2 separate regions of the Homo sapiens genome follow, and region 2 is linked to region 1. Evidence: fine-mapped expression QTL. A gene starts in region 1. The other region holds a variant in brackets. All regions are shown on one strand. Distances are from middle to middle.

Region 1 (5,387 bases):
GGGCAACATAGTGAAACCCTATCTCTACGAAATTAGCCAGTCATAGTGACACATACGTGTAGTCCGGGCTACTCAGAACGCTGAGACACGAGAACTGTTTGAGTCCAGCAGAGGTTGCAGTAAGCTGAGATCCCGCCACTGCCCTCCAGCCTGGGGGATACAGCAAAACTCTGTCTCAAAAAAAAAAAAAAAGTCTACAGAAAATTTCCAATTTGGAGGGAGGTGGTTTGAGGCAACTTCTATGTTGTGGTTGTTGTTTGTCTAGTTCTAAAATTACAACTCAAAGCAATTTCACTACAACCAGGGAAGCTACAGGTCAACCAACAAGAATTCTAAACACACCTCTCTTCTGAACTCTGCTAGAACCCTACAGAGGGTCTATGAAGACCTCAAGCTGACTATATAAATGAATTTGACACTGTTAAGACTAGTGTCAGCTGGGAGGAAAAAGACTCATACTTTGAAAGCTTTTAAGCACAGATAGCTCAATAAATATTTGTTAAATGAACAACACATGGAACATCATCTTTAAATTGCTCTGGTCCCATTATTACTGGTTTCACAAGCCTTTATTAAATATCTTGTTTGTGAGGCACTGTGCTCTAAGCTTTGAAAGGTTACGGAAGATAAATCCTTGTCTACATGCTGCTTAGATTTGAGAAAATGGAAGCATTGAGCTAAAAATTTTAAATATAAGCATTGATAAGAAATAATCAGACTGAATTTCAATTAAGGCGTGAACAATCACTGGACGGTGAATCAAAAACCTGCCTTCTCTCAGTTTCAATTTTTTTTTCTTTTTTTTTGAGACAGAGTCTCGCTCTGCCGCCCAGGCTGGCAGAGTGCAGTGGTGCAATCTCGGCTCAATGCAACCTCCGCCTCCTGGGCTCAAGCGATTCTCCTGGCTCAGCCTCCCGAGTAGCTGGGACTACAGGCGCGCAGCACCACGCCCCGCCAATGTCTGTATTTTTAGTAGAGACGGGGTTCATTCACCATGTTGGCCAAGCTGATCTTGAACTCCTGACCTCAAGTGATCCGCCCACCTCAGCCTCCCAAAGTGCTTAGATTACAGGCGTGAGTCACCGCACCCGGCCTCAGTTTCAATTCCTAAAGCCACCTGGCTAGGCAACCCACAAGGCCTCTACATTCAATTTCATAAGTGAAATGAGGACGCTATGAAAGCTGTCCACATCCAGCCCAATTGTAAGAATGAGAAAATGTGTATGTTATTTTTTAAACAGTAAAGTCATAAAAACGTGTTATTTCAGTATTACTATTTTGAGTTGGATCTGAAAGAAGGGAATGATTTACCGGGCTGAGGAAAGTAGGAGACAGCCTTGGGAGGAGGGAAAGCGTGGGGCCAAGAAGAAGAAAGGAGAATTGTCAAGTGAGAAGGTGGGAGCAAAAAGTAAATTTCTAGAACAGGAAACATTTGTGTCTTATTTCACGTTGCAAAGGCAGGACCTCAATCTGGACTTTAAAAAAATTACTCTAAAAGATTTAAATAGGCCGGGCGCAGCGGCTCACGCCTGTAATCCCAGCACTTTGGGAGGCCGAGGAGGGCGGATCACGAGGTCAGGAGTTCTAGACGAGTCTGGCCAACATGGTGAAACTCCGTCTCCATTAAAAATTTAAAAAATGTGCAGGGTGTCGTTGCGGGTGCCTGTAATCCCAACTACTTGGGAGGCTGAGGCAGGAGAATCGCTTGAACCAGGGACGTGGAGCTTGCAGTAAGCCAAGATCGCGCCACTGCACTCCAGCCCGGGCGACAGTGCGAGACTCCGTCTCAGAAAAAAAAAAAAAAAAAAGTAAATAAAGCCGTACAGTTTACAACAAACTAAATGCTTACAGTATTTGACCCTCGCAACTCTAGGAGCAAACAGGTATTAGTGTTATTCCTATTTTAATACGTGAAATCTGAAGTGAAGCTGTCTGGTTAAGGTCGCACAGATGGAAGAGCCAGGGCCAGGAACCAAACCTCCTGACTCCTAACTCAAGTGCTCCTTACACCAGACCTGGAACGCTGGTAAAGGCCTTTAAAACAAAGGCCACCTGTGAGGTTCGGGAACGTTCAAAGGCATCTAGAGCAGAAAGCTTCGCAATGTCTGTCTTTCACCATCACGTGCTCCGCCTAACTTTTCCTCCTTTTTCAAAGACTACCCAATATGTGTACTAAGTTTTAGATCTCTGGACCCCCCTATGGAGTAAACAGGCTACATCACCATGTCCATTTTACAATTAAACAAAACCACAACTCAAGGAGTTGGCTGGTTCCTCCGTGGGCAGACACGGAAAACCCAAAAATTAAACTGAAATCTGCCTCCAAGCCCACGATTCTTGCCACCATTCGACCTCTTTCAACCTTACTACTTCCCCTCTCTTTCACTTTTACCCAGCCTCGTTAGTGTCCCTGGCACCTCAGGACCCGGCTATGAAAAGCAGGCTGCTTCGCCCTTAAATGACGGAAGTGGGGAGGTGGGCGAAAAGGGGGCCGCAGCGTTGTTTAGACTGCAGAAATCAACTACTATCGTTAAAGTTTAGGGATCATCACAAACCAAATCTCCAAAAGGTAGCCTAGAAAGCAGTCCGCGTATGAGCATCATTTTAAATCACAGTCTTGAGCTGGCTGGACCCCGCGGCTGCTCAAACTCCACACACGGTTCGCTTGGCTACCGCGCCCGTGAACTTGGAGGCTTGGAAGAGGCACAGTCAGGCGGCAGACCGCGAATTTTCCCTCTTTCCAACCCAAAAGTTTGCTCAATGAACCTCTGGCCTAAAGACAATGCTCCGGGGAACGGTTCGCGTGCTGGGTGTTTCGCTTCGAGAACGGCGGTCCCAGCTTCCCGTGAGGTGGAGGTCACGCTCAGCCTCCCGGGAGGCGGCGGCGCGCCTGCGTCCCAGGGAACAGCAAGCCGGGGCTCTGCGCCCCACACCCGGCGGCCGCAGCCCCTACCTGAGTGAGAAGGGCAGCCTCGCACGACTCGCCGCCCCCTTCCTGCGCCTCCGCCTCGGCCGGCCGCCCACGCCGGCACTGCACCCTCTTCCTGCTTCTCGTCAGCGCCCCCGCCTGCCCGCACGCACGCCCAGCGCTGACCCGCCAGGTCGGGGTCTCACCACTGGCGGTGGCGGCGGCGGCGGCGGCAGCGGCGGTAGCTGAGGCGGCGACTGGACCCGGGACTCCGCCCGCCACTTCCCGATCGGGTGCTAGGAGCTCAGTCCCGGCAGCCACCGCGGCGCCAGGGCAGCCAAGCGAGCGCATGCGTCATTGCGTGCCCCGCCTCTGGTGCCGCGGGAGCGGAACTATCCCGCTCTGGCGTCCTGGGGCCTCCATGACAACGAGGGAAGGGCTGGGGTGGGGCCGAGAAGGGGACTGAAGTGGGAGGCGGCGCCACTGAAGATGGAAGGCAGCTTTCTTTATAGACACTTTATTAAAACTGCTACAGCCTGCTCCGGCGTGCGCTGGGATGTGGTGAACCCAGCCGACGACGCTATCTTTCAATGGTTACTTTGTGTTTTTTGTCTTTTTCTTATTAGAGACGTGATCTCACTCGGTCACCCAGGCTGGAGGGCAGTGGCGCGATCTCGGCTCACTGCAACCTCCGCTCCTGGGCTCAAGCCATTCTCCCACCTCAGCCTCCGGAGTAGCTGGGATCACAGGCGAGTGCCACCACGACGGACTATTTTTGGTTATTATTGTTGTTGTTGTTTGTATTAATAGGGTCTCACAATGTTGCCCAGGCTGGTCTCGAACTCCTGAATTCAAGCGATTTGCCCGCCTCGTCTTCCCAAAGTGCTGGGATTACAGGCGTGAGCCACCGCGCCCGGCCTCAACGGTTATTTTGTGAGTTTACCCCAGCGCCACACACCAGCACCTGCACACCGAGAACGCGGTTCCAGCTCTTTTACAAGCGAAGAACAGAGGGCCAGGAAGCTAATTAATAAATGACTTGCTCAAGACAACACAGCTAGCAAAGGCAGCCTGATGTGGAGCACAGCCCAGCCTCTTCCCTCCACCCCTGTGAACTGTCTTAGAAAAGGATTTTGGATTTAGAAGCCAGATAAATGGGTGGAAATAAAGCAGTGGAAAAAATAATTTCATTGCCCGAAACCTGCAGCGTGGCAGGCCTTCCCTCACTCTTATAACCTAAAGCGGCAGTACAGCCAGTGCTCAGCCATTCTGTGGCTGTCGTTGAATTACTGGTTACTCTTCAAGTTACTGAAACTGTGGCTCAGTTTTCTCATCGGGGAAATGGGGATAATCATTGTACTACTACAATGAGTTACTTGCATTGGACTGTGGTGAAAATTAAGTGAGAAAATACCTAAAATTTTATTCAAAACTTGGAAAAAAGTCAAAAGATAATATTTTGTGACTTTTATTAGTTTCATTCTAGAGAATTTTGTAATAAGCCTACTTGATCATCTGACACCCACAGGAAATGTAACTTTGTTTGAATAACAATTGATTAGGGCCCAGAAGATTTACAAAAGGATGAAATCAAACATCAATTGGTAGGAAACTGATGAGGTGTTAGGGGAAAAAGGGGCAGGGAATTCAGTGTGTATATAGATAGATAGATAGATAGATAGATAGATAGATAGATAGATAGATAGATAAAATTCCAAAGGTTAAGGTTGCATTTTTCTGAGAAAAATTAACCGGTTTTGTATCAACTGAGCAGTTTTATTTCAGCATTCCTTTCCCCAACGATTATATAAATATCATTTTTCAGAACTGGTAGAAATCCGTTTTATGATTCTGCTGGCTCCCTTATTAATGAGTGAGAGACTTATACATATGGACAATGGCTAAACCGCATATGATAATAACACTCTAACTCACATAAGCCAAACCATAACCTCTACAGCAATCAGCTCAAAATGGTCAGAATTTTCTCAAGAAGGCTGCCAACTTTTCTATTTTAACCTCTCTGTCCTCAGACACCAGTATCAGCCAGAGAAAGCCAAATATTCTTCCCAAACCAATCCTGTTAAGTTTCCTGCTTCAAGTTAGACAACTTCCAGCTTCCCCTGCCAACATCCCTAAATCAGAACACATCAGAAGCATCCCTTTTTTCCTCCACTGTAAAGTCTCCCCTCTTCCCGATTGCTTTTGAGTCTCTGCCAAACTCAAGTGTGGTCGCTGCCCCTATTGCTATAGCAAGCTCTGAATAGTCTCTGTTCTCACTTGGCAGGTCTACATTTCTTGCGTTAAATAAAACTTTGACACATATTCACTATCTCTTCCCTTGAGACTTAGAAATCTAACAATTAGAGAATCTTTACAGAATTAAATCTTTCACAAAGAAGGTGCTCAATAAACGCTTACAGTGAGTAATTTCATGTCAATATCTTGACTCATTTCAGCCAGTTGAAACAGCTAAGCT
Region 2 (5,387 bases), 21 kb before region 1:
AAAAAATACTAAACCTTCCATCAAACATTAAATTCTAATTCTTTTGTGAGTCAATGTTTTTCTAAGACTCTCAGTAAATGTCTAATTTTCTCCTCCAAGATGCAGAGAAGCCATCACCATCATCTGCCTGAACTATGTACTTTTTACTTCTCACATCAATGGAAGTAATAACCTGAAAAATCAATCACATCCTCCCATTGGTTTTGCCAGCCTGTATTCATTAAGAGGTGATATACCTACTGCCTAGGCACACTCTTATTAAGTGAAATGGTGAGCTTAAACTGTACCCTTGAGTTAATGCAGATTAAATATGCTTTGGTAACTCGCCACAATGCCAAATTAATACAATGTAAAAGGCTTGAGGTATAATTGGCATACAATAAACTGCACATACTGAAAATGCACAATTTTGATAAATTTTGATGTATACAGAAATTTAACTTCTGAAAACCCTAATCTCCTTCTTTTGCCAAAAAGTTAAATAGGACTTTTGCTATCTGAGAAAAGTACTTACCTTCATGTAATTCACAATCTTAGCAAGAACACCAAACTTATATCCAGAGCTTCCTGACAAAGCTTTCAAGTTAAATGATCCATTGCTATGATCTGCAAATGAAGTTCAAAATAACATCGTCATATTATGTGTGATTATGACTCTTGAGCAGCTAAAATAATTTTAATGCTGGTAACATATTTCTTGAGTTTTTCATCTAGTATATTCTACCCTGTAATATTCTGGTGAAAAATACACAATCTTTGAGTATATACATTAAAGTACCAATTTTCTCACTAAGGGTAGAAACAAAGTATAAATAACTTAAAACACCAAACCACAATTCTTTTATAAATATCTTTATCACATTATTTTTTATTATATTTTTTGAGACAGGGTCGCATTCCCATTGCCCAGGCTGAAGTTCAATGGCACAATCACAGCTCACTACACCCTCAACTTCCCAGGCTCAGGTGATTCTCCCACCTCAGCCTTCTGAGAGGCTGGGACTACAGGTGCACACCACCATGCCTGGCTAATTTTTTTATTTTTTGTAGAGATGGGGTTTCGCCATGTTGCCCAGGCTGGTCTCAAACTCCTGGACTCAAGAGATTCACCCATCTCAGCCTCCCAAAGTGCTGGGGTTACAGGTGTGAGCTACTGCACCAGGCCCCTTTCTCCTTTATCTCATTCTTATCTTAACTCTGATTAGACTCGCTCCATAATCAGAAGTACACTTTATTAAACAAGGAAACAATACAAACCTCAATCCCATCCATAAAGCTAACACAAGGAGTGGATTACTTCTGAGGGAAGAAAAGTTCAATATACCACTTTTTACATCAATTTCTGCTTACCAATTTAAGACCAAAAAAATAGGAATTAATGGAAACTAATAGAAAAAAGATATCACAATTATTTTAAAGTAAACTTTACAGATAAATTAGGAATAAAAAGCCACAGGCACTGCCACTGCATGAACATGGATGCTTACTTTAAAAAGCATCACAGCACTACCCACCCACTTTGAGAAACACCCCCCTCTCCTTCTCTATCTGGTGTGGAAAACCCTGTACAAAAGATCATTTGTTTCAAAATATCTATCATTTTGTTGCATTCTTACAAGCAGAAACCCTAATGTCACCACTGCATCACAAATGCATTCCATTAGTCATAACCAGGAACAGTAAAAAATCCATCATAAATACTAGAAAAACATTTTAGAAGTACACATTCTATTAGCAAGGCATGAGATCAGATATTATAAAGTTCCCATGTGGCTGATCCACAAAGAGAGAGGTTAAGTAAAAGGGGAGAGGAGAACCAATCTCTGGCACCAGGTTGGTAATAATAATTTAAACAAAAGATTGCATTAGAACAACCACAAGTCAAATGTAACAACTGTCAGAGATCCAAAAGAACAGCTTCTAGATGGCAATACCATACTCCTTTGAGATTAGTGAAGTCTTTATTGAGTATCCTTTTTTGAGACTAAAATGAAACTTCATATGCAATTTTCCTTTAAAACTAACTTTGTTACAATCTTAATTAATTGGCACACTGAAGTCTACCATGTTTCCAAAAGTAACAATAACATTAAGAATGCCTTACAGTTGGGAAGCCCAGGTGGGCAGATCATGAGGTCAGGAAATCGAGACCATCCTGGCCAACATGGTGAAACCCCGTCTCTACCAAAAATACAAAAATTAGCTGGGCATAATGGCACGTGCCTGTAGTCTCAGCTACTTGGGAGAATCACTTGAACGAGAGAGTTGGAGGTTGCAGTGAGCCGAGATAGTGCCACTGCACTCCAGCCTGGCAACAGAGTGAGACTCCGTCTCAAAATTAAAAAAAAAAAAAAAAAGAATGCCTTATAGGTGCTTTTCCATTCACTGTTTCAATTATGAAATATTACCTACGTAGTTCATTCTCCCAAGGTGTTCAGCACATCTGTAATAAAAGTAACCAATATTTATTATCTGCTAAACACTATGGTAAATATTCATACGTAATCCCTCCCAAAAAATCCAACTTAAGAAGTATTACTGTCCCCTTTTAAATATAATAAAATTGAGGGTAGTAAGCAGCAGAGTATAGATTCAAATCCAGTGTAAACCCTGTAATAAACAGCCTTTACACAGATTATTCCATCTGAAACTGGCCATTTTGTCAAAGTACAGAAATCTGTGACTGCACATTTAATGCTTGTTTAAGTAAAATAATATTAAGCTTACCCCACGCAACTGTATAAACAACTGGGAAGACTATGAAAAAAGAGATGACAATGTGTTAAGGACAAACACCACACAAATGGCCAATTATGAATCACAAACAGTTGTGCTTATGAGACATGATGCTTATGTCTCTGGCATCTACTACTAACTCAATGTCAAGCTTAGTAAACACTCAATAAATATTTGTTGAATGAATGACTATAATACAGATATTTCTATGCATTCCTTTATGGCCCCAGAAACTAATGTACCAATTCATCTATAATTTTATTTTATTTATTTTATTTTATTTTATTTGAGATGGAGTCTCACTCTGTCGCCCAGGCTGGAGAGCAGTG[G/A]TGTGATCTCAACTCACTGCAACCTCTGCCATTCGGGTTCAAGCAATTCTCCTGCCTCAACCTCCTGAATAGCTGGGATTACAGGAGACTGCCACCGTGCCTGGCTAATTTTTGTACTTTAGTAGAGATGGGGTTTCACCATCTTGGCCAGGCTGGTCTTGAACTCCTGACCCTGTGATCCACCCAACTCAGCCTCTCAAAGTGCTGGGATTACAGGCATGGGCCACCGCTCCCAGCCTTCATCTATAATTTTAAAAAAGAAGTCTACATAGCATGTACCTGGTCTGCTGCTGTTGTTAACAGCCACTCCCATAATTAAAAACCTTCATTCTGTTGTGCTTAGACCATAACTCTAAATAATACACAGTAACTAAAAATACTCTGTCTCTAAAGAGCCAACCTGGAGATCACTTTGCCATTTACATTTTAGAGACTATTTTTTGAATGCAGGTAGTGTATTTACCTAAATGAGCCCTCTTCCAACTTGCAGAGCTAAAAGCCAATTATTTTCCTTCATAATTCCTCCTAAATCAAACCACCACATGGAAATAATCACTTCCAGAGTGCAAAAATTATATACGGAACAAGTAATGAAAGAAAAGGAAGAACAAGAAAAATTTATAAGATTTTATGCACACTTCCTGAAGGAAATATCAGGCTGGCAAACCTGGACTGTTTGTTTCCTAGGTTACTACCTTTCCCGACATTATCTTCCAGCCCTAGCACTGAAGTATTCACTGAAGGATCTGAAATTTTATAATGAAACACTAAAGAATCATCAATTTGTTAGTAACTCACAAATTCCTATATAGGAATTTAGCTTAAGAACAAAAAAATAAAGGAGAAGGGATGACAGTTGATACCCCAGACAGCTCTATTCAAGTTTATGAATGATTTACTCTTAAGGGTGGCAAGACTTAATGCAAATGAACATAGAGGAAACTGTCAGCTCCATTGTGGTTCAACCAATAGAAGCACAGCTCCATCTTGGCTGTGCACTAGACTGCATTACAAACAGACGATACCATCGCTTCAGCAGCATCCTCTCAGACAAGAGGTAGGTTTATATGATCTTTTTTATTTAGTGGTACATGTCCTTATGATGCAATAGGAAAATATTTTACCCTGAAAAATCAACCAGAAAGCTTTGCTCCTACTAAATATCAAGAAAAAGCAATGTATTCGTTTCACCGCTTGGTAGGATTTTATTATGAAAATATGAAGACTGCCTTGTGCTATTTGATAAGCACCCTTACCATCTGTGCCTTAATGGAAAATTCATTACATTTTACATGAACCTGATCTATATCCAGACCTCAGAGTAAACCATAGCTTTTTATTTTAACTGGTTACTTGCTAATTTCATTTTCTCTGAGCGATTTCATTTCTGCAGTTTGGTCTGTCTTAACAAAGGATTTTTCTTAAAGAAAAACCCAGATCAAAAGCGAATTCCAGACTAAAGCTTTCTGATTCTATGTGCAAATGATATTGGCTGCTAAAAAATAGTTACTTATAAGAAAGTTTGTTATATTTTTTAGAATATGAGAAAATAGTTCAAAATTATTTTTATTTTGCTTTGAATGTAGATGCAGAGAATGCCAAGAAATTATCACAATTTTAATTTTTATATAAAAGATCATAAAAGGTATCACTATATGGGCTGCATTATACTACACTGAACAGATAATTTATACAGCTTCAGACTTCCTTAACATTTAATTAAAGTATTTCTTCACTGTGAAATTTCTCTCTCGTAATATAAAGTCATGCTATTAAACAAAAACCTTCTTAAATAGCCTTTCATTTTTGATATCAATTTATCACACCATTTAAATATAATGTTGAAGTCATTCTTAAACTGATCCTCAAAATAAATACAAAGTAAGTCCTTTTGATAAACTGCATTTTAAAATAAAAATATGTCCTAAGAAGAACTGGTTAAGAAAGGAGAGTAAGTACCTTTCTAGGTAACAAGATTATCTTCGTGGCTCAGAGCAATCATTCATGTCTATTAAAAATTAATATTAACTGCTGACCAAATTTCTAATTTTATACTATTCAAGCATGAAAATTTAGTTATTTACTAGATGTTAGAACTCCATCTATATACTATATCGGACCTAAAGAGCCAGCTTCTGTCCTTTTACCTTGCTGGTAAGTTTATTTAATCTTTAAAGGGTTTTTGTTTTTTTTTTCTTCATAATTTCTATTCCTTTTCTTAGTCGGCATTCAGCTAGCCTGAGCAAAGTATCCCCTGCAAAACCCAAAGGTTGCTGTAATAAGATACTAGATCTGTCCAGGTTCAGCACAGTGGGGTTAATT

Which allele goes with the higher level. Alleles are on the strand shown, and positions count from the first base shown. SD is a standard deviation of normalised expression in the study named.
For the expression in spinal cord of the gene that starts at base 3,217 in region 1, allele A in region 2 goes with a higher level than allele G (moderate effect, 0.49 SD a copy in GTEx).

Evidence for each region. PIP is the estimated chance that this variant, and not a neighbour inherited with it, causes the effect. A credible set is the group of variants that fine-mapping cannot tell apart.
Region 2: its variant is the best candidate, but not a certain one, in a credible set for the expression of GTF2E2 in spinal cord (GTEx, PIP 0.64).

The regions. Positions count from the first base shown.
Region 1 is chr8:30,655,020-30,660,406 of GRCh38, forward strand. It overlaps GTF2E2 (general transcription factor IIE subunit 2), which reads right to left and starts at 3,217. Exons shown (of 8, transcript NM_002095.6): 1 at 2,954-3,217. RefSeq lists enhancers at 1,746-2,417, 3,089-3,760 and silencers at 2,802-2,891, 2,902-3,311.
Region 2 is chr8:30,634,518-30,639,904 of GRCh38, forward strand. GTF2E2 (general transcription factor IIE subunit 2) reads right to left here. Exons shown (of 8, transcript NM_002095.6): 3 at 515-606. It overlaps SMIM18 (small integral membrane protein 18), which reads left to right and starts at 4,063. Exons shown (of 3, transcript NM_001206847.2): 1 at 4,063-4,122. The variant G/A (reference allele first, on the strand shown) is at 3,066.